3 linked regions of the Homo sapiens genome follow. The protein of the gene in region 1 purifies or fractionates together with the protein of each later gene. This does not show direct contact. Each region holds a gene or a part of one and is shown in the gene's direction. Other genes may lie near its edges.

Region 1 (6,897 bases):
CTTGGTTCTGCAATGGGAAAACCCAGGGTGAATGTGGCCTGCCTGGTTCCACTTAGATAGGTGAGCAGAAAAGCTCAGGTTGGTCAAAGTCCCTTCCAGACAGTGTTTGCCCAGGGCACTGTGAGCTCTTCAGACTTCCCTGGCACTCACCCTGTCTGCCTCCTGGGGTTTCAGGTGTACCAGCTGGACACAGGGCATTACCTCTGCAGGAACAAGTACTATGGCCGTGGGCTCTCCATTGAAGGCTTCCGCAATGCCCTCTATCAATATCTGCACAATGGCCTGGACCTGCGACGTGACCTGTTTGAGCCTATCCTGAGCAAACTGCGGGGCCTGAAAGCTGTGCTGGAGCGGCAGGCCTCTTACCGCTTCTACTCCAGTTCCCTGCTTGTCATCTATGATGGCAAGGAGTGCCGGGCTGAGTCCTGCCTGGACCGCCGGTCTGAGATGCGTCTCAAGCACCTGGACATGGTGCTCCCTGAGGTGGCGTCATCCTGTGGCCCCAGCACCAGCCCCAGCAACACCAGCCCCGAGGCGGGTCCCTCCTCTCAGCCCAAGGTGGATGTCCGCATGATTGACTTTGCACACAGCACATTCAAGGGCTTCCGGGATGACCCCACCGTGCATGATGGGCCAGACAGAGGCTACGTGTTTGGCCTGGAGAACCTCATCAGCATCATGGAACAGATGCGGGACGAGAACCAGTAGGCCCTGTTCTGGGCCCCCAGAACCCCTTCCTCTCCACTGCAGGCAGGGACCATTGTTCTGAACTTGCCGTGAGGACACACAGACTTGCTTTTAAAGGGTTATATTTCTCTTTGGTGTAAACTAAAAGAAATGTTTTTAGCTGTAGCCTGGAATCCATATATATAAAGTGAAGGAGGGCAGACCACACGCCCTCTCAGCCAGGCTCCTCAGCTTTGTGGCTCTGACTGGTGTGTCCAGGCTGCCTTAGGAAGGAAGAGGTGCCCCTGGTGGGCTTGGCAGCAGGGACAGGGTGCCCTTGGACATTGGTTTCTCTTGTCTAGATCTTTGAGATCTGTGGCTGCAGGGCCCTGCTGATTGTAAGGTAAAGCCCTGGGCTGGTGCAGGGCCCCTCCACGCCCACTCTTCCCTTGTTCCCCAGAAGTAGAGGGCTCTGGGTGCCCATTTCTTGGGGGCTTTCCAGTCTTATGCTGTGGGTGTCAGCTAGCTCTTTAATAGGTGCCCTCAGGGCACCACAGGGCTGACTGCACAAAGCTGGACCCATCCTTCGGTCTGACCTTAGCATGGGGCTAGATTAATGAAGCTGGGCTGAGGCCAACTTATGGCAGAGGGCGGCGCCTGGGTTCCCCAGGCACCTGTTGGCACGTGACAGGTTGGCACCTGTCCTATTCCTGAAACAGCCTCTCTCACCAAGTTCCCTTGCCTAAGAAGGCCACTCCCTCCCACCCCACTGAAGTGGGGGATAGTCGGTGTCCTAGCAGGCCTCAGGGCCTCTGGTGGCTCTGGCCCAGACAGTATTTGCAGTTCTTGTGCTATGGGTGGGAGTCTTCTTCCTCAAGTTTCGGCAGCTGTGCTGCTGCTGGATGGGCTGCTCCTCCCAGGGCTCAAGGGCTGTGGTCCGCTCAGGGTCTCATTTCCCCAGGCCAAGTTCAAGGCAGCAGCCCTTTGTGAGGCGCTCTTGGCCCTGGGCCTGGAGGGAGAACTTTAAGCTTTTTTGCTCACAGGGACGTGGTATGGGCCCTGGGTGCAGGTGCCCACATTCTGCTAATGAGAGCTTTGTCTGATCAGTCCTGGGTCCATCAGTTTGTCCATGTGTCCGGCTGCCAGCCCGTCCCTTGGGATCCTTCCCCTGGGGTGTAGCCTTGTTCATTAGTATATACTCATTCCTTCATGCTTTCCTCAGCAGAACACTTCCACTTCTGAGGTGAGCTTTTGCCCCATGCCCTTCCTCCACAGGTGTTGCCTTTTTATAAAGACCTGATAGCAGAATAAATTGGTGTTTCCCTGTTGACCCAGCACCATTTCTGTGGGCCTAGAATATGGCCCTCAACCCTTAGAGTGGGGCAGTGAGGGCTTGAGGAGTGACCCTTCCTTTCTCATGGTTTTAGTCATTTTGGCTGCCAGCCCTTAATGGCACAGATCTGCTGCTTCTAACAGATGGCCAGGAGGTGACACCGATTTCAGCCATTGCCAAGGTTAGCACCCTCTCCTTTGAGCCTAGGGCCACACTGTTCATTGTCACTTTAGGCAAGTGCCTGTTTGGCTTTAAAGGTAAGCCTGCCAGCTGTGAGAAGCCTTGGTAACTGATGGACTCATTTCCTGGTCCTTAAAGATGCAGCCTCTTAAGGGCTCCTTGATGGATGCCATCTCTCCTAGCCCCCAGCCCTGGTGCCACTGGTGGGCAGGTTCCCATTCTTTGGGGCTGGGAGGGACAGCTTGCCTGTTTCTGGTCACAAATTACAGTCTTCTCTCCTGTACCATTCTGTGGCTTCAGCCATGGGGGCAGTAGCCCTTCATTAGTGTAGATAGTCATTCCCTGGTAGGGTGGAGGGTAAGACATAGGGTCTGGAACTGTTTGGGACCTTTTGGGGATGTCCTGTGCCTCCCAGATTCCTCGATTCTGGGAGGAGAGGCTGCCGCATTCTGCTGCTCCTCACAGCGAGCAAAGCTGCACCCACTTACATTCAGTATTTTCCTGGCACTACAAAGAGTGGGAAGGCCTGGGATTTGCTGCTGCTCCCTTAGAGCAGGGCCCCTCTTTTCAGCACTTTGGACACCTGGAGACCCAGCCCTGTTATTTAATGGTAGTGGGCAAGTGTGTGTGCATACTGTCTGCCACTGCTTTCTCCCTGCCCCATGCCAGAGAGCCCTGTCCCTGCCAGGCCCAGCCTTCTTAGCCCCAACTTGGGAACAAAGTGCAACATGGGATCATGGGTTGGGGTGCTCAGGTGAGCCCTCTCTATAGTGCTTCCCTGGGCCAAGCTGACACCAGCCCCTGAGGGTGGGGTGGGACGGGTGGTGCTTAAAAGAGGAAGGGGACCAGTGTAGCAACTTGCCAGGGACCCCACCCCTCCCTCTCTGGGCCTGTGCAGTGAGCATGGGGATTCCCATCAAGGGGCCTGGCACCTGTGCTAGTTACGTAGCCGCTGCTCACGCGCTCACTCCTGACCACATGCACGTTCCCTAGATGCAGACTGCTTTGAACTTTAAAGCTGTACAATTTGGTTATGTTTGTGCTGACTTAAAATATATTTTAATGAGGAAAAAATAATGGAGAACCCTGGGAAGGACCTGGTTCTTTTGCTTCTCGGGGAACTGTAAGCCCTCGCGTTCTGGGAATCGCTCTCTGCTGCTCTTTCCTGGAAGCTAAGCCTGTCTCCACCGCCCGAGGCCTGCGCCGGTGGCTCCCGCCGCAGTTGCGTTTGCTTTGGACCTTGCGTGCGGGGGAGGGGGTGCTCGGTCCGAGCCCGCTCCTTTCTGTACACCTAGCGCTGCCCGCCCCGCTTGTGTCTGAGGTCGTGTATGTCAAAAATAAAGCCGCTAGAAACGGAGGCGAGTCTGTCTTTGTGAAAATCCCGTGGCCCGGGAGCCTTCCCTGGTCACCCTCGGGGCGAGGCCGGGGCCGTGGGGCGGGGCCGGCGGCTGCTGGACCGCGGCGAAGCAGGGAACAAGGCCTCGCCCTTGGCGCCAGTTCCGCCTTTGGATCCGCCAATGGCCAGCTGACCCGCGGGTCCCGGCCCGGGTCTCCATGGCAGCCCGGCGTACTCGGGCGCTCATTGGCTACGTCTGTCGCAGCGCTGCGCTCCAACGTTCCGACGCCGGCGGCCGTGCCACGTACGCGGCAGCCGATTGGCCCGCGGTGGTCGCGTCACTGCCCGCGCCGGGTCCGGCCTGAGTTCGGGGCCAGCAGCCGTCTACCCGGTGTCGCGTTCTGTGTTGTGGCGGCCCTGGATCCGGCGTCAGGGCGACCGGGCGGACGAGGTGGAGCCAGAGTCTGTCAGGCGGGTTGGTGAAGGGCGCGGGGCCGGGCACGGCGTTGGGAGTGCGCGGCAGGGACCGGCCAGGCGGGCTGCAGGCACCTCAGAGCCCGGGACACCCCCTCAACGTCCGCAGGCGCGATGAAGGCACTGATCTTAGTGGGGGGCTATGGGACGCGGCTACGGCCGCTGACGCTGAGCACCCCGAAGCCACTGGTGGACTTCTGCAATAAGCCCATCTTGCTGCACCAAGTGGAGGCGCTAGCCGCGGTAAGACCCTGGGTCGGGATCAGAGTCGCGTTCGGATCTGGCGGGACTAGGGATGGCCAGCGACTAGGGGTCAGGGGCTCCCGTACCTTCTGACTGAGCCCGCCCGTCGGCCTGCGTTCTGACAGGCAGGCGTGGACCACGTGATCCTGGCCGTGAGCTACATGTCGCAGGTGCTGGAGAAGGAAATGAAGGCACAGGAGCAGAGGGTGAGGCACAGACTCTTGGCCCTTATTCTCGGTCCCCGCCCAACTTCCCATCCTGGTAGAACCTGACTGGGGGGGCCTCTTCCTTCCAGCTGGGAATCCGAATCTCCATGTCCCATGAAGAGGAGCCTTTGGGGACAGGTCAGTAGAGGCAGAAAGGTCCCTTGGGGGAGGGTTTAAGGCCAGGAAAAGGGTAAGACCCAGCCTGGAGTGGGCCTGCTGAGCCTGAATCCAGGGACTCAGACCTCCAGCAAGGTGGTGACCTGTCCCCTTCCCCCAGCTGGGCCCCTGGCGCTGGCCCGTGACCTACTCTCTGAGACTGCAGACCCTTTCTTCGTCCTCAACAGTGACGTGATCTGCGATTTCCCCTTCCAAGCCATGGTGCAGTTCCACCGGCACCATGGCCAGGAGGGCTCCATCCTGGTAAGGCGCCAGGTCTTCTCTCTCTTGACACTTTCACCCTCCATGCCCAGCCTCCCATGCCCCCTAGCCTTCATCTGCCTTCGGATGTTATGGATACAGAGCTGTGCAGTATGTATCTTTAAGCACTTGGGGCAGAGTCTCTTGAGATCTGGAACGGCATGTGTATCAAGGCTTAGGAACACTGGACTAGGTCCGAGGTCCCCTTCCTTGCATTCAGGTGACCAAGGTGGAGGAACCCTCCAAGTACGGTGTGGTGGTGTGTGAGGCTGACACAGGCCGCATTCACCGGTTCGTGGAGAAGCCACAGGTGTTTGTGTCCAATAAGATCAACGCAGGCATGTACATCCTGAGCCCTGCAGTGCTGCAGCGCATCCAGGTGTGTAGGAGACAGCTGTTGGTGGGCTGGGGTGGGGCAGGCCATCACCGCCATGACCCTGCTCACAAGCTGCCCACTCCCACAGCTGCAGCCTACGTCCATTGAGAAGGAGGTCTTCCCCATTATGGCCAAGGAGGGGCAGCTATATGCCATGGAGTTACAGGGTGAGGCAGGGAGGCCACAGGGTGGGGGTGGTCTGTGGCTGGGCTGAGGCCCCTGATGCATCCCTCCCTACAGGCTTCTGGATGGACATTGGGCAGCCCAAGGACTTCCTCACTGGCATGTGCCTCTTCCTGCAGTCACTGAGGCAGAAGCAGCCTGAGCGGCTGTGCTCAGGCCCTGGCATTGTGGGCAACGTGCTGGTGGTGAGGCCCTTGCCCAGCCCATCATTAACCCCCTCAGTCTTGGGAGACAAGTGGCCCACTTGTATTTTTCCCACCGCTCTCAGGACCCAAGTGCCCGCATCGGCCAGAACTGCAGCATTGGCCCCAATGTGAGCCTGGGACCTGGCGTGGTGGTCGAAGATGGTGTGTGTATCCGGCGGTGCACGGTGCTGCGGGATGCCCGGATCCGTTCCCATTCCTGGCTTGAGTCCTGCATTGTGGGCTGGCGCTGCCGCGTGGGTCAGTGGGTAAGCCTGTGGGCTGGGCTGGGTGGGGAGAGGGGCGGGGAGTGTGCCTGCCTCCCTGACAAGGCCTATCCTCTCCTGGAGGTACGCATGGAGAACGTGACAGTGCTGGGTGAGGACGTCATAGTTAATGATGAGCTCTACCTCAACGGAGCCAGCGTGCTGCCCCACAAGTCTATTGGCGAGTCAGTGCCAGAGCCTCGTATCATCATGTGAGGGGATGCAGTGGGGCTGGCCGAGCCCCGGTTTTCCCATCAGCAAGGGGAGTGCTGGCCTGACACATCAGAAGACCCTGGACTTGTCATTATTTGTCTGGGGGGCACTGGGTGAAGCTGAAGCTGTTGGACACCTGCCTTCTCATGTGGACATCATCTGGCAGGATCCCTGCTGGGCACACCCCACAAACCCCACTCCCTCAAGAAGGGCCAGGGCCAGGGCTGTATGGAATAATAATTTAATGCTCACTGTGGCCCTGACTGAAAGTCAAGCTCAGGCACAATTAGGGCCATGGCTGGGCTCCCACCAATGAGGATACAGGCAGGCAAGGAGGTTGGATGTGGTGGTGTGGGATACAGGAGAAGGGCAAAGGGAGCTCATAAATAGGGCCCAGCCTGGCTCTGGGTTCAAAGGTGGAGGTTCCAGGATGGCACAGGCTGTGAGGGCTAGGCAGCTGAGGAGGTAGTACTCGTATTGGCTCCCTTCTCCCAGTCCTCTACAGACACGATGGTGGTTTTGCAGAAGAAGCAGTCCTTGTTGTTCATCAGGTGCTGGTTGATACAGGCTCTACAACAGGGGAGGGGATGAGGACTGCCCTGCATGTACCTACTGCTCTCCCCACCACCAAGCTGTGGGGCCCACTTACTTGCAGGACTTGTGGCCACAGGGCTGGAACACAGCAGAGATGGGGTGGGCATAGCAGATGGGGCAGAGGTCCTCCTCACTGGTGGGCTGCAGGGAGGAGAGTGAAGGGTGGGCTGGAGTTGGATGCCTGGCTATGTGGATGTCCGTTGTGCCTGTGTAGGAGTGCACACATAT
Region 2 (7,869 bases), on another chromosome or scaffold:
CAGAGAGAACAATTATTGAGAAAAATGAAAACATAGGTAGAGTTCTACTGCCCTTTGGAACAATATCAAAGAGTCTAACATCCATGTAATAGAAATCTCAGAAGGAAAAGAGAATAGAGCAGAAAAGAAATATTTGAAGAAATAATGACTGAGATCACAGAACAGGCTAACTGTCTTTGGGTTGCTTTGCAATGAAATGCATGGTAAAATCACGCTCTGTCTTGTTCCGTAGCATTTCTTTTTTGGGGATTCAGGATCTAGTATGAAAAAGGGACCCTGAAGTTTTGGGGATCTGTTTTGCCTTCCAGCTCTGTATGCTTATTAGGCCCTAGAAACTGCACGTTTTCCTAGCCCTGTTCCTCCAAGGGCTCCACCTTGAAGCCAGTAATCCAATTAAGAAACAAAAACTGGCAAATGAAAAATCCTACAACTACTGGATCTTCTGTCTGTCTGTGTAGTTATATGTGTGTTATGTGTGTAATGTTTATATATGAAAGAGCTCTAATTAATGTTTTAAAAATAACAAGTGCTTAAATCAAATATTTTGTCAGAAAAATAAAAACTGTAATGCCTTTCAGTTGATGTTGTTACTGGTGGAAGGTATCCAAGTTACCAGCAGCGAATCTGCACTAGTCAGCACCAACCTCGATCCTTGCCTCCTCAGGAGAAACAATTCCACTGAGGGGCATAAGGCAGAAAAAGAGACCAAGGTAAGTTTCAGAGCAGGAGTGGAAGCTTATTTAAAAAGGCTTTAGAACAGGAAAGAAATGAAAGTATGCTTGGAAGAGACTCAAGCAGGCACGTGGGCACGTGAAGGTCAAGTGCAGTGTTGAACCTTGATCCTAGGACTTTATAGGCTGGCTCTTTTCCCATGATTCTTTCCTTAGGGTGAGCTGCCCGCATGCACAGTGCCCTCCCTATCCTTGGGAGGTGAGCACATGCAGTGTGTTTAGGAAGTTGTACACATGCCCACCCAAGGCTTTCTTCCCTTTTCCCATGGAGTGCCACGGAAAGGTCATACTCTGCCGTTTTGTCTCTTAATGCATTTGCCTGGGAAGTTGCATCTCCCTGGCATCTGCATTCAATTAACACTTTAGTGCAATAGGTGTGGACCATCAGGAAATGGCGTCTCCCTGACCCTAGGTGCCAATGTATGACTTTTAGAGAGGCAATGTGATAACTGCTGAGCCATCACCCAACATTCCTGGTGGGTGGGAGAAGAGCCCTTTCCTGCCCTGCTCATGCTGTCTAATGGCCTGTGACAGCATGACTTTAGTAGGCTTTGGGAAATCAAGAGTTTTGAAGATTATTGGTAAAATAAAGACATTTGGTTGAAATTAGGTCAGACATTAGGTTTGCTAAATGCTTTAAGGTAATAAACTGCTTCTAAAAAAAAAAAGAATGACATTTCTCCAAATTTTGTGGAAAACATAAATCTACAGATTCAAGAAGTAAAGCAAAACCTAAGCAAGATATTTGTAAAGAAAATCATACCAAAAACATCATGGTCAAACTATTGAAAATCAAAGAACCAAAGAACCAGAGAAAATCTTAAAGGCAGCTAGAGAAAATGACATAGCACAAGTCGGGTGTGTAAGTGAAGGGTTATGATTCAAAAACAATGAAGGCAAGAGGACAATAGAATGACATATTTACAGTTGAACTTAGATGGGTAAGGATAGCAATATCAACCCAGAAGTCTGTATCCAGAGGACATAGCATTTGAAAATGATGGTAAAATAAAGACAATTTCTAATAAATTAAAACTTAAATTTATCACCAGTGTATTAGTCTGTTTTCATGCTGCAGATGAGGACATACCTGAGACTGGGCAATTTACAAAAGAAAGAGGTTTACTGGACTTACAATTTCACATGGCTGGGGAGGCCTTGCAATTATGGGGGAAGGCAAAGAGGAGAAAGTCACATCTAACGTGGATGGGAGCGGGCAAGGAGAGCTTGGGCAGGGAAACTCCTGTTTTTCAAACCATCAGATCTCATGAGACTCACTTACCATCATGAAAACAGTATTGGAAAGATCTGCCCCCATGACTCAATCACCTCCCACCTCCCACCTCCCACAACACGTGGGAATTGAAGATGAGATTTGGTGGAGACACAGCCAAGCCATATTAATCAGCAAATCTGCATTATAAAATTTGTTTTTAATTCTTCAGAGGAAAGGGAAATGATACTAGATAGAAACTCTGATCTACAAAAAGGAAGGAAGAACACCGGAAGTTGTAACTATGTGGGTAATTTCTCTAAAAAAGCAATTAAGGCAAAAATTATTCACTGTATTTAAATATTTAGGTCTAGTATACATGACAGCAATAACATAAACGATGGGGCATAAATGGAATGACACTAAGTTCTTACCTCTTATGTCAAATAGTACAATATTGGCTCTTAGTACACTGAGATAATTTAAGGATGAGTATTGAAAACCCTAGTGTAAGCACTAAAAATTAATGTAAAGAAGTATAACAGAGGCCAGGCGTGGTGGCTCATGCCTGTAATCCTAGCACTTTGGGAGGCTCAGGTGGGTGGATCACAAGGTCAGGAGATCAAGAACATCTTGGCCAACATGGTGAAACCTCGTCTCTACTAAAAATACAAAAATTAGCTGGGCATGGTGGCATGTGCCTGTAGTCCCAGTTACTCAGAAGGCTGAGGCAGGAGAATAGCTTGAACCCAGGAGACAGAGGTTGCAGTGAGCCAAGATTGCACCACTGCACTCCTACCTGGGCAGCAAGAGTGAAACTCCATCTCAAAAAAAGAAAAAAAATAAGTATAACAGAAAGTCAATGGTGGAATGAAAATGAAATAATCAGAATTATTGAATTAATCCAAACGAAGGCAGGAAAGGAGGAACAGAGGAACCGAAAAGGTTAAAGCAAATAAAACCCAAATTGCAAAATAATAGATCTAAATCCAACCACATCATTATTACATTAAATGTAAATGGACCCCAAACTCCAATTAAAAGGCATTTACAGGCCAGGTGCAGTACCTCACACCTGTAATCCCAGCACTTTGGGAGGCCGAGGCGGGTGGATCATCTGAGGTCAGGAGTTCGAGACCAGCCTGGCCAATGTGGTGAAACCCTATCTCTACTAAAAAATACAAAAATTAGCCGTGCATGGTGGCAGGCACCTGTAATTACAGCTATTCTTTCTTTAAAGCGGAGAAGGCATCAGGGAAGAGGGTTGTAGGTGGTGAAGCAAATGGTTACATTTTTGCTAGACTTTAGGTAGTGCCCAGTAACTCTATGCTATGCATAAGATAAGGTGAATATTCAAAGAAAATGGAGTAAAGGAAGTTAATTATACAGATATCTCAGGTGAAGGAATGATTGATCTTATCCTTGTTCTGCATCTGGGAAGATAAGCTTGTAACTGAATTTATCCATGTGAAATTTAACAGACTTTAGTTGTACCAGTTTGATTTAGGTTGCAGACTTAAAGTTATACAATTGACACGTCCTTGTTTTATGGAAGGATATACATCTTGAAAGGTTTAAGGGCCAGTAAAGAATTTACTATGATTAATTTGTTGAGGACAGTCATCCTGAGACTGAGATGCATAAGGCTTTTTTTTGCATTTTGAGGAGGGTCTGGCTAACATATAAAGTTTTAATACAACTATGGGAAGTAACAGCTATCCATTTGGGAAAAGCATTGTAGTGTTGAGTGACTTCAGTCTCCAGGCTTAACTCTCCCTTTGACATAACAAGTTGGGGGTGGGGGGTGGTTCTGAGATTTTTATTTTCCTTTACAGGGTCAAAGAGGAAATCATAAAGGAAATTAAAAACTATTTTCAGCTGAAGGAAAACAAAAGCACAGTAGCAGGCCAGGCAAGGTGGCTTATGCTTGTAATCCCAGAATTTTGGGATGCTGAAGCAGGACGACTGCTTGAGACCAGGAGCTCAAGACCAATCTGGGCAACAGTGAGATCCCATCTCTACAAAAAATTTAAATTTAAAAATTAACAGGATGTGGTCGTGCACACCTGCAGTTCCAGCTACTGTGTCTTCTACAGTTTAAAGCTGAGAAGATCCCTTGAGCTTAGGAGGTTGAGACTGCAGTGAGCTATGATTGTGTCACTGCACTCCAGCCTGGATAACAAAGTGAGACCCTGTCTCAAAAATAACAACCACCAAGAAAAAAAAAAAGGAGAATTCAGCTAAAGCAGTGCTTAGAGGGCAATTTATAGCCTTAAAATACTAGCATTGGAAAAGCAGAAAGATCCAGAATCAATCATCTTCTACTCTAAGCAACTAGAAAAAGAAGAGGAAATCAAAACTCAAGTGAGCAATAAAGAGCAAAATAAGGCAATGGACCAGAAAACAGAAAATCAATGGAACCAAAACATGACATTTTGAAAAGATTTAAAAATTGATAAACTTCTAGCTAGATTAGTCAGAAAAAGAAAACATACAAACTGCCACTATCAAGAATATCTGAACAAAGACAAGGTCCCTGCCCTCCTGGACGTCTACTGGAGGAAAGAAATGTCATACAATTAAATCTATAGTTACAGATTATGGTAAACTCTGAGAGAGAATTCTGTCAGGGAGAAGCCGCTTTTGGTTGCAGGAGGGCACCTCTTTGAAAATTACTCACCTTCCCGCCCTCCACTGGGAGTAAAGCGAGCTGTGCCCAGCTTCTCCCCGCGCTCACGGAAGCAGGTGGCGGCCCCACCCCACCTGACCCCTCAAAAGCCCCGCCCCCTGTTCACTCCCACGTGCCCCGCTGCCGCCGCCGCCGCCGCCACGACCCTTCTGCGCAGGCGCGGGGGTGGTGCCTGGCGGAGGCGCGAGGTGGGGCGCGGCCGGCGGCGAGGCGGGACAACCGCTGGGCGGGCGCCAAGCGTGCCCGTGCGCTGGTGAGGTGGCGTCCGTTCTACCCGGTCGCTCCCGTTCCGCGCCATGCAGAGCCCAGTCTCTGGCACCTGGCTGCTCTGATCTGGTCTCAGCGCGGAGGGAGCAGAGGGAGTCCATGGAGGATCCCTCCGAGCCCGACCGGTTGGCGTCCGCGGACGGCGGGAGCCCGGAGGAGGAGGAGGATGGGGAGCGGGAGCCGCTGCTACCGCGGATCGCCTGGGCCCACCCGCGGAGAGGCGCCCCAGGCAGCGCCGTGAGGCTGCTGGACGCTGCCGGGGAGGAGGGCGAGGCCGGCGACGAGGAGCTGCCCCTCCCGCCCGGGGACGTGGGGGTCTCCCGGAGTTCGTCCGCCGAGCTGGACCGGAGCCGCCCCGCGGTTTCAGGTGCGACCCGGCCCTGCCCCACTCCCCGCGCCCCTCCGGGCGGCTGCCCCTGTCGCCCGGCTCGGTCCTGTCTCCCGCGCGCGCTGGCCGAGGTGGACGGGCTTTCCCCGCTCGCTGGGCAGCAGCTCCCGAGCTCGGACCGGCGCCAGCCGCAGCCGCACCGCGGGCACCTAGCTTGCTCGCTCTTTCTCCGGGAGCTCCCTCTCCTAAGGCCAGTGGTTGTCATTAAACCGATTCTTTAGACCTCCCCGCAAAGTGAGTCAAAACTTCTAGAAACCGACACTGGGGAGAGGTTAACGCTGTAAAATGACGTAAGTCCTTGCTCAAGTTTGGACTTGACTTTTGAATTAAGAACCTTGAACTCTCAGGAAAGTTCCCGGAGTGGTGAATTTGCAAAGTGGATGACAGGAGAGAGATGGACAGCCAGAATATCCAGTTGCCACTGGGGCACGTTTCAAAACCTTTTTCTATTAAATGTTGTTATTATGAAGTTAGCCACAGGGGGCAAAAGCAGTTGAAAGTCTGTTCCTGCCCTCTTACAGTTTAGTTTCTCTTTCTTGATTTACTTCTAATACATAAGAAAACCAAAACGAAAAACCTCTTTTCGCTATTAAGCGGACTGATAACCTCAGGCGAAACAGGGCAGTTGAAATGATGTTGAAGGTTAAATTTAGGTATGCTGTGCAGGCCTGGATATTTATTAATAAAGTGAGTTTTTCTGGCGTGTTGAATGGAGTTAGACAAATGTGATGGAAATAGCAAGAGACTTGTAAGACTCTCAGCTAGAGGTGAGACAGACTTGTTTGTAAAAAGGCGATGGTACACCTCCCTGCTGGTTGTGAGGATGGATTAAATGAGATGTTGTGCACCCGGTTGGTTTATCGCTTCACACATGACAACTTAAAAACCACAGAAAATGGAAGTTTCTTTAACACTGCTTAGTTTTTTTTGGAATTGTTAGATTTTAAATGTACTGTTAGTGGTACACTAATGTGTCCTTTACAGTTTAAAGAATTTTGGATAGAATCGGTCACTCAAGTTCTAGCTAGAGGCTACATTCAGGCATATTCTAGAGTAAATAAATCAGAGAATCCCAAGGGGAGCAGTTTGTCTGATTGTTTAAGCTTTAACCAACGTCTGCTCCCGTTATAATGTTACCTGATGGATGCATTGACGTTTAACCAAACAACGTGAAGCTGAAACCAGATCACAAACGGGTCTGCATTTGCCTAGCTACATTGGCAATTTGGGTATATGTTACTTAGAATTTAGTCTGTAAAATAGCTAGCTTGCCTTTTTCTGTCCCTTACCTTGTGTAAGCTACCTTGTGTACCTGGGTTTTTAAAAGAGCCTAAAGCCTTCAAAATGCACTTGTTCTGTGAAAGTGAGGTGTTTTATAAACAAACAGTATTAAGGCTAGAAAAAAATCAAAGCGAGAGGTCAACGAGATGGCAGGCCTGTAATCCCATCCCAGCATTTTGGGAGGTCTAGGCAGGAGAATAGCTTGAGGCTGGAAGTTCGAGACCCACCTGGGCAACATAGCGAGATCCCCATCTCTATAAAAAATAAACAACAACAACAACAAAAATTCAAAGTGAGGATAGAGTATAGTGTTAGAATACAAATGGATTCTTAGAATTCCTACCTTTTTTAAAGGTAATATCTTACCTGTATCACAGTTTACAATTTGCTAAGATCTTTTTTAAAAAAATATTTTATTCTCCACTGCACTCCAGCCTGGTTCTGTCTTGAGACAGAGCAAGACTCTGTCTCAAAAATAAATAAATAAATAAATAAATAAATAAATAAATAAATAAATAAATAAATTTTATTCTCTGTTGGGTGCCATGGCTCATGCCTGTAATCCCAGCATTTTGGAAGGCCTAGGTGGGTGGATCATTTGAGGTCAGGAGTTTTCAGACCAGCCTGGCCAACATGGTGAAACCCTGCCTCTACTAAAAATAGAAAAATTAGCCAGGCATGGTGGCGGGCGCCTGCAATTCCAGCTACTTGGGAGGCTGAGGCAGGAGAATCGCTTCTGAACCCGAGAGGTGTAGGTTGCAGTGAGCAGAGATGGCTCCACTGCACTCCAGCCTGGGTGACAGAGTGAGACTTTGTCTCAAAAAAAAAATTAATTATTTTCACAACAGCACAGCAAGTTAGTTGTTATTCGCCATTATTCTCATTATGAGGATTCAGAATTAATAAACTGGTAATGACTGGTAGCTCAGGTCTTCAGAGGTAAATGGTTTGCCCGAAGTCAAATATCCAGGAAGTAATAAATCAGGAGGAAGCCTGGTTCTTTCTTCATCTTCTGCCCCTTTTCCGTTTTGCCATGGGTCCACAAGTGTTATAAAATAATTGTGTCTGTGGTTATTTTGGAGGTTTTTACCTTTAATAGGACTTTAAAATAGTTTCTGTGAAAACTGTTTAAAAAATTTTTAAAGACTAAAATGTTCATGATTGAGTAATTTAATACTTTTTAAGTTTAGTTATTTTTTAAATGACTCCATTAACTTCATTTGTCCTTTACCATCCGATTTCCATGAAACTACCTCACTAGTTCCAAGAAATTCTTGCCTTTAGATTAATATGAACATCA
Region 3 (7,019 bases), on another chromosome or scaffold:
TCATCCAGGACCCCTTGGATAATGTAGTGTGTGCAGTTCTCAGGCATGAGGCAGGAATCAGGAGCTGGCTCTCCTTAGAAATTTGCAGTCCTGGCATCAGTATTGTTCCTGTTTTCTCTGCTGAGAGGGTTTGTCTCTCTCTGGCTTTCTGTCTCGTTTATTTTTCTCCCCCATTAACTATTCTGAAGAGTAGTTATCATACCATATTCAGCTTTAGAAGGGAAGTGGTTTACTTTGCCAGGCCTAGAATCCCCTCCCTGCCCCCTCCTCTTGAGGCCACAAAGAACATATCAGGATAAGAGAGTCATTTCAACTAGTGGGTGTTTATTCATTTATTTATTTTAATTAATTAATTTTTTTTTTTTTTGAGACAAAGTCTCGCTCTGTCACCAGGCTGGAGTACAGTTGCATGATCTCGGCTCACTGCAACCTCCGCCTGCCAGGTTCAAGTGATTTTCCTGCCTCAGCCTCCCGAGTAGCTGGGACTACAGGCATGTGCCACCATGCCCAGCTAATTTTTGTATTTTTAGTAGAAACGGGGTTTCACCATGTTGGCCAGGATGGTCTCAATCTCTTGACCTCGTGGTCGGCCCACCTCGGCCTCCCAAAGTGCTGGGATTACAGGCGTGAGCCACCGTGCCTGGCCAACTAGTGGGTCTTTAAAAAAAAGAAAAAAGAAAAAAAGTTTGTATTTATTTACTTGTGGCCCTCAGATTGTATTTTTTCCATTGGCAGCTTAGATTTCCTCATGCTGCTAAGTATAGCTGTATTTTCCCTGAACTCTTTCTCTGATGGTCAGAAAACTGAGGCTGTTTGGCTTGTGCTTTCAGCTGGTGGAGGATGGGCTTGGAATTAGGGGTTACACATGTTTTTCTTAAATAAAGAAGAGAATGATGTCTTATAAGTTGGGCAGCCCCACACACGGTTTGCCCAGGGCAGTCTTGGTTTTCCCCTGTGTAATCATTAATAGCACCCCTTTTCATTCTCATAAGCGTCCCAGTTTGAACAATCAAATATATAGTCACCCACCACATAAGCCATGTTAAGGATCAGGGATACATGACCATGAAAAGACAGGGAGCTCCTTAAGATAGAAGTTAAGGTCTGTCTCAGAGCCACAAGTGCTAGAAGCTGGAGGTTTAGAGGAAGAGGATTTCTCTGGGCTGGGTGTTCAGGAAGGCTTCACAGAGAAAGACATTAGGTAGACTTGAACAACGGGGAGAAGTAAAGAAAGAAGATGGGAGATCACATCTTTACTATTTACAGCGTAGGCACTTATGGTACTATCTCATTTAATCCTCCTAACAACATCATGAAATTGGTTACGATATTATTCTCATTTTTTTTGTTTGTTTTTTTGAGATGGAGTCTCACACTGTCACCCAGGCTGGAGTGCAATGGTGGGATCTCGGCTCACTGCAACCTCCGCCTCCCGGGTTCAAGCAATTCTCCCTGCCTCAGCCTCTGGAGTAGCTGAGATTACAGGCACCTGCCACCACACCCGGCTAATTTTTGTGCTTTTTAGTTTCACCATGCTTGCCAGGCTGGTCTCGAACCCCTGACCTGAGGTGATTCGCCCACCTTGGCCTCCCAAAGTGCTGGGATCATAGGTGTGAGCCACCGCGCTCGGCCTATTCTCATTTTTATATGAGGAAAATGAGGCTTAGAGGGTCCAAAGTCCTGCAACAAGTAAGAAGCAGAGCTGGAATTCAACCCCAAAGTCTGTGATCTTTTCAAATAGTAGTTCTGCATTCAAACAGAGAACAAATAGTGCAAAGGGCAGAGCTGGGAATGTGCACATCATGGTTTGCGGGTGGTGAATAGTCCAGTCAGGCCGGGGTGACAGTGGGTGTTGACAGGGGAGAGGAATGCTGCTGCCTCCCTTGGTCACTCCAGTTCCAAGATTTGCTACAAGTCCCAAAGTATTCCTTTTGTATTCATTCCTTTTGGTTACTGTCTAGGTTTGGCTGAGCGCAAGGGGTTCATTGTTCACCTTCCTCTGTAGATGGTTTCTCCTGACTTCAGAACCATACCACTGTATTTGGTCCCTACTTTGTGCTTTTCTGCTTAGCATTCTCTTCATGGTAAGGATCTAACTGAACCTGATTCAGCTGCTGCTTGCAGTGAAGCAACACTGATGTAAATAAGCGTGGAAAGGTTCTCCAGCATCTCTTTGGACCCTGCAGTAGGTCTCTCCTGCTTGCTCTGCCTTTTCTCCACTGCTCTTATGTTTTTCCTCCAGTCAGGGCCATATGCCTCATGTTTATATAGTTTCCTCTCTAGAGAACACTCGCTCCCCCTAACTGCTTCAGTGAGCAAGTTATTTCTGCAGCCTCTTATCTCAAGTGCTTTGCTGTCACTTTGGTCCACAGCCATTTGGGCAGTTCTTGGTCTCCAGGAAACAGAGGTCTCTGGTATCAGGAGGAGGAATTACAAGTCAGAGGAGTTACTATAGGACTGGGGTATTGGGTAGAATTCTTACTGCTTTGGAAAAAAGTAAAGAATCCCCCTACCCCAGTGCTGTTCAGTATGAATGGGCCTTTGCTTCCACACTTTTTTTTTTTTTTGAGACAGAGTCTCGCTCGGTCACCCAGGCTGGAGTGCAGTGGCACGATCTTGGCTCACTGCAACCTCCGCCTCCCGGGTGCAAAAGATTCTCCTGCCTCAGCCTCCCGAGTAGCTGGGACTACAGGCACCCGCCACCACGCCTGGCTAATTTTTTGTATTTTTAGTAGAGACGGGGTTTCACCAGGTTAGCCAGGATAGTCTCGATCTCCTGACCTTGTAATCTGTCCGCCTCGGCCTCCCAAAGTGCTGGGATTACAGGCGTAAGCCACCGCGCCCGGCCTGCTTCCAAACTCTTGAAGTAGACTTAGAGAAATAGGCATGGGGAGGACCTCAGGGCAAACTTCTTTAGGGGCCCTTTGGGCAGAACCCGGACAGATAACCTCTGTCTTCTGTATTTCTCTCCAGGGATGGGAGTAGGAGATGGCGACGAGGGTGGTTTAAAAACAAAAACCTATCTCGTAACTGGATGGGGCAATTGATACCACCAGAAGTCTTCTAAAATTGCCCTTTTTGAGCTGTGGCTTTCCAGTGGGGGAAGAGAAGAGTGATAGCCTGTATAGGGAAGATGATTCTAGGTTTCCCTAGATTCCCTTTTTTTCTTAAAGTTACATTAGTTGATAACTATTCTTTGCTATGTGTTACTCCTCTGAACCTTCCCACTTTGCTAAACTCTTGAGTCTAGCAAATCTTCCCTGATTGAAGAAGTCAGACTATATGGATTTTCACCTTCTTGTAACCCAGTAGTTCTCAACTGGGGGCAGTTTTGCCCCCCAGGGAACATTCAGCAAGTCTGGAGACATTTTTGTTTGTCACGACTTAGGGTGCTACTGGCATCCATGTGGGTAGAGGCTAGGGATCCTGCCAAATATCCTATAATGCACAGGACAGCCTCCACAAAAAAAGAATTATCCGGCTGGGCATGGTGGCTCATGCCTGTAATCCAAGCATTTTGGGAGGCCGAGGCAGCTGTATCACTTGAGCCCAGGAGTTCGAGATCAGCATGGGCAACATGGTAAAACCCCATCTCTACAAAAAATGCAAAAATTTGGCTGGGCGTGGTGGCTCACGCCTGTAATCCCAACACTTGGGGAAGCTGAGGCGGGCGGATCACCTGAGGTCAGGAGTTCAAGACCAGCCTGGCCAACATGGTGAAACCCTGTCTCTACTAAAAAATACAAAAATTAGCTGGGTGTGGTGGCGCACGCCTGTAGTCTACTACAGCTACTCGGGAGGCTGAAGGGGGAGAATCACTTGAACCCAGGAGGCAGAGGTTGCAGTGAGCCCAGATTGCACCACTGCACTCCAGCCTGGGCGACAGAGTGAGACTCCATCTGAAAAAAAAAAAAAAAAACAAGGGCCGGGCACGGTGGCTCATGCCTGTAATCCCAGCACTTTGGGAGTCTGAGGCGGGCGGATCACGAGGTCAGGAGTTCAAGACCAGCCTGACCAACATGGTGAAACCCCGTCTCTACTAAAAATACAAAAATTAGCCGAGCATGGTGGCATGTGCCTGTAATCCCAGCTACTCAGGAGGCTGAGGCAAGAGAATCTCTTGAACCCAGGAGGTGGAGGTTACAGTGAGCCGAGATCACACCACTGTACTACAGCCTGGGCGACAGAGTGAGACTCCATCTCAAAAAAAAAAAAAAAAAAAAATTAGTCGGGCATGGTGGCGGGTGCCTGTAGTCCCAGCTACTCAGGAGGCTGAGATGGGAGGATCACCTGAGTCTGGGAGGTGGAGTCTGCAGTGAGCCGTGATTGCGCCATGCACTCCAGCCTGGGTTACAGAGTGAGACCCTGTCTCAAAAAGTAAAAGTTAAAAAAAGAAAAAGAATTATCTAGTCCAAAATACCAGTCATGCTGAAATTGAGAAACCCTGCTATATTTAGTGTGTCTCATTTTGTCTGTCTCATCCCATCCTCTCTCAGAACCAGGCTGAGATAGAAGTTCAAAAGTAAACTGGTGGGCTGGGCATGGTGGCTCACACCAACATTTTGGGAGGCTGAGGTGGGCGGATCACTGGAGGTCAGGAGTTCACGACCAGCCTGGCCAACATGGCAAAACCCCATCTCTACCAAAAATACAAGAATTAGCCGGGCATCATGGCGCATGCCTATAGTCCCAGGTACTCAGGAGGATGGTGCAGGAGAATTGCTTGAACCCAGGAGGTGGAGGTTGCCGTGAGCCAAGATAGTGACACTGCACTCCAGCCTGGGCAACAAAGTAAGACCCTGTCTCAAAAAAAAAAAGTAAGCAGGTAAGACAGAAGTATTGTGCCATATGCTGGGCCATAGGCTTTCTGGTCTCATTCCACCCAGCAGAATGCTTATACCTGGAATGAAATGATATAAGTACCTGCCTCATTGGGTTAAAGATTAAATGATTGATTAATGCATGAAAAAATATGAGAATAATGCCTGGCACATTCAATAAATGCTTAAAACCAAACAAAACCCAAGACCCTGTCACCCCGATTTTGGGCACTCCAGTTTTAGTATATTTTATTTTATTTATTTATTTGAGATGGAGTTTCGCTCTTGTTGCCCAGGCTGGAGTGCAAAGGCGCAATCTCGGCTCACTGCAACCTCCGTCTGCCGGGTTGAAGCAATTCTCCTGTCTCAGCCTCCTGAGTAGCTGGGATTACAGGCGCATACCACCATGCCTGGCTAATTTTTGTATTTTTAGTAGAGATGGGGTTTCATCATATTGGTTAGGTTGGTCTCAAACTCCTAACCTTAGGTGATCCGCCCGCCTCAGCCTCTCAAAGTGTTGGGATTACAGGCGCCAGCCACCACGCCCAGCCCTGGACTAGATCTTACTTTTAACCTTTATTCTCAAAGCCTCTTCACCTGCAATCATGATTTAGAAGTGTAAGCATTCGGCCGAGCACGGTGGCTCACGCCTGTAATCCCAGCACTTTGGGAGGCCAAGGCGGGCGGATCACCTGAGGTCGGGAGTTCGAGACCAGCCTGACCAACATGGAGAAACCCCATCTCTACTAAAAATACAAAATTAGCTAGGTGTGGTGGCGCATTCCTGTAATCCCAGCTACTTGTGAGGCTGAGGCATGAGAATCTGGTCAAAACTCCATCTCAAAAAAAAAAAAAAAAAAGTATAAGCATTCTTTTACCTATTATGAAAATGGGAAGAAAATAATCAACCAGGGTTGATATGCCCAAGAGCATGCCTTGAATGTATCAGCTACCCCAAATTCCCTTTTTTGACTGTTTGAGTGCCCAAAGAAGATAAGAAATCCGAAGTTTATTTACTGCTCTATAAGTTAACATTGAAGGAGATAGGAGGAAAGAACACTTTTCTACAAACTGGATATAGGTAGAATGCTATAAGCTTAGCTGAAACACTTATGCCATCTATGGAATGAGGACCCATTAGATTATTTGACCTACCTCCTCTGTGAAGATCAATGAGAGGAAGTGTGTGAAGCCCTACATGAGTATAAGGTAGATGGAGAGGCCAGGCACAGTGGCTCATACCTGTTATCCCAGCACTTTGGATCTCGAGCCCAGGAGTTTGAGACCAGCCTGTGCAACATGGCAAAATCCCGTCTCTACAAAAAAATACAAAAAATTAGCTGGGCATGGTGGCGCTTTCCTGTAGTTCCAGCTACTCAGGAGGATCGACTGAACCTAGTAGGAGGTTGAGGCTGCAGGGAGTTGTGATCACGCTACTGCATTCCAGCCTGGGCGACAGAGTGAGACCTGTCTCAAAAATATATATATTATTTAAAAAAAAAAGATAAGTGGAAATGAATAGAGATACTTTTGTTAGTTTCCCATTTTCCTTTCTCTCCAGGAGTCCCGACCTCTACATGTTGTGCTGGGAAATGAAGCCTGTGATTTGGACTCCACAGTGTCTGCTCTTGCCCTGGCTTTTTACCTAGCAAAGGTGGGTAAAAAAACGTAGTACCTAGGATCTGAGTCCCTCAGAACGAAAAGATCTGGATTCAAGACCCAGCTCTACCACTTACCAGCATTTAGCATTGGGTAAATTAAATCCCTTAACTTTGCTGAGTCTCATGCCACCATCCATAAAAACTAAAATGATATTTTGCAGTGTTGCTGTGAGGAAAAAAGTGAGCAAATATATTTCGAGGGATATGTAAACCATAAAGCAATATTCAAACAGTTTATTACTGAGTTCCGTATAGGTATCAGTGATCTAGTGTGTATTCCTCTGCCCAGGTTAGTTCTTGAGGACTAAAAATTCCTTCTCTGCAGCATTGCATCTAGAAATAGGTATTTACCATGAGTTACCTTGTTGACTTTCATGTTATTACTAAGAAGGAGGGAGGGCAAAAGTCATCCTTTCATTTTTATAGACTGGGTACTTATGGCTTTGAGAAAGGTGGTAACTTACCTAAGTATGTCTCCTTTGGTCCCAGTAGTCTTGTTACTTTTTCCTGTCATTATAAAACCTTGTGATACCTTCTT

What was found. Proteins that work in one complex are often made in the same cells at the same time.
Region 2: the proteins of GMPPB (region 1) and PI4K2B purify together in Homo sapiens (affinity purification with mass spectrometry; 3 studies listed by BioGRID and IntAct, with this or other methods). This does not show direct contact.
Region 3: the proteins of GMPPB (region 1) and PRUNE1 purify together in Homo sapiens (affinity purification with mass spectrometry; 3 studies listed by BioGRID and IntAct, with this or other methods). This does not show direct contact.

What each region holds. Positions count from the first base shown.
Region 1 is NC_000003.12:49,720,933-49,727,829, reverse strand, and holds the start of GMPPB (mannose-1-phosphate guanylyltransferase catalytic subunit beta), read left to right. Parts: upstream 1-3,878; 5' UTR 3,879-4,103; coding exon 4,104-4,232; intron 4,233-4,357; coding exon 4,358-4,438; intron 4,439-4,527; coding exon 4,528-4,576; intron 4,577-4,715; coding exon 4,716-4,858; intron 4,859-5,075; coding exon 5,076-5,234; intron 5,235-5,319; coding exon 5,320-5,398; intron 5,399-5,471; coding exon 5,472-5,599; intron 5,600-5,682; coding exon 5,683-5,865; coding exon of another isoform or gene 5,866-5,946; coding exon 5,947-6,078; 3' UTR 6,079-6,524; coding exon of another isoform or gene 6,525-6,645; 3' UTR 6,646-6,724; coding exon of another isoform or gene 6,725-6,810; 3' UTR 6,811-6,897. Other genes in the region: IP6K1 (inositol hexakisphosphate kinase 1), read left to right, coding at 175-708; E3 ubiquitin-protein ligase RNF123, read right to left, coding at 6,525-6,645, 6,725-6,810. UniProt on the Homo sapiens protein: Catalytic subunit of the GMPPA-GMPPB mannose-1-phosphate guanylyltransferase complex. Catalyzes the formation of GDP-mannose, an essential precursor of glycan moieties of glycoproteins and glycolipids. Can catalyze the reverse reaction in vitro.
Region 2 is NC_000004.12:25,229,165-25,237,033, forward strand, and holds the start of PI4K2B (phosphatidylinositol 4-kinase type 2-beta), read left to right. Parts: upstream 1-4,868; 5' UTR 4,869-4,999; coding exon 5,000-5,267; intron 5,268-5,399; exon of another isoform or gene 5,400-5,578; intron 5,579-7,869. UniProt on the Homo sapiens protein: Together with PI4K2A and the type III PI4Ks (PIK4CA and PIK4CB) it contributes to the overall PI4-kinase activity of the cell. This contribution may be especially significant in plasma membrane, endosomal and Golgi compartments.
Region 3 is NC_000001.11:151,011,431-151,018,449, forward strand, and holds part of PRUNE1 (exopolyphosphatase PRUNE1), read left to right. Parts: intron 1-6,381; coding exon 6,382-6,474; intron 6,475-7,019. UniProt on the Homo sapiens protein: Phosphodiesterase (PDE) that has higher activity toward cAMP than cGMP, as substrate. Plays a role in cell proliferation, migration and differentiation, and acts as a negative regulator of NME1. Plays a role in the regulation of neurogenesis.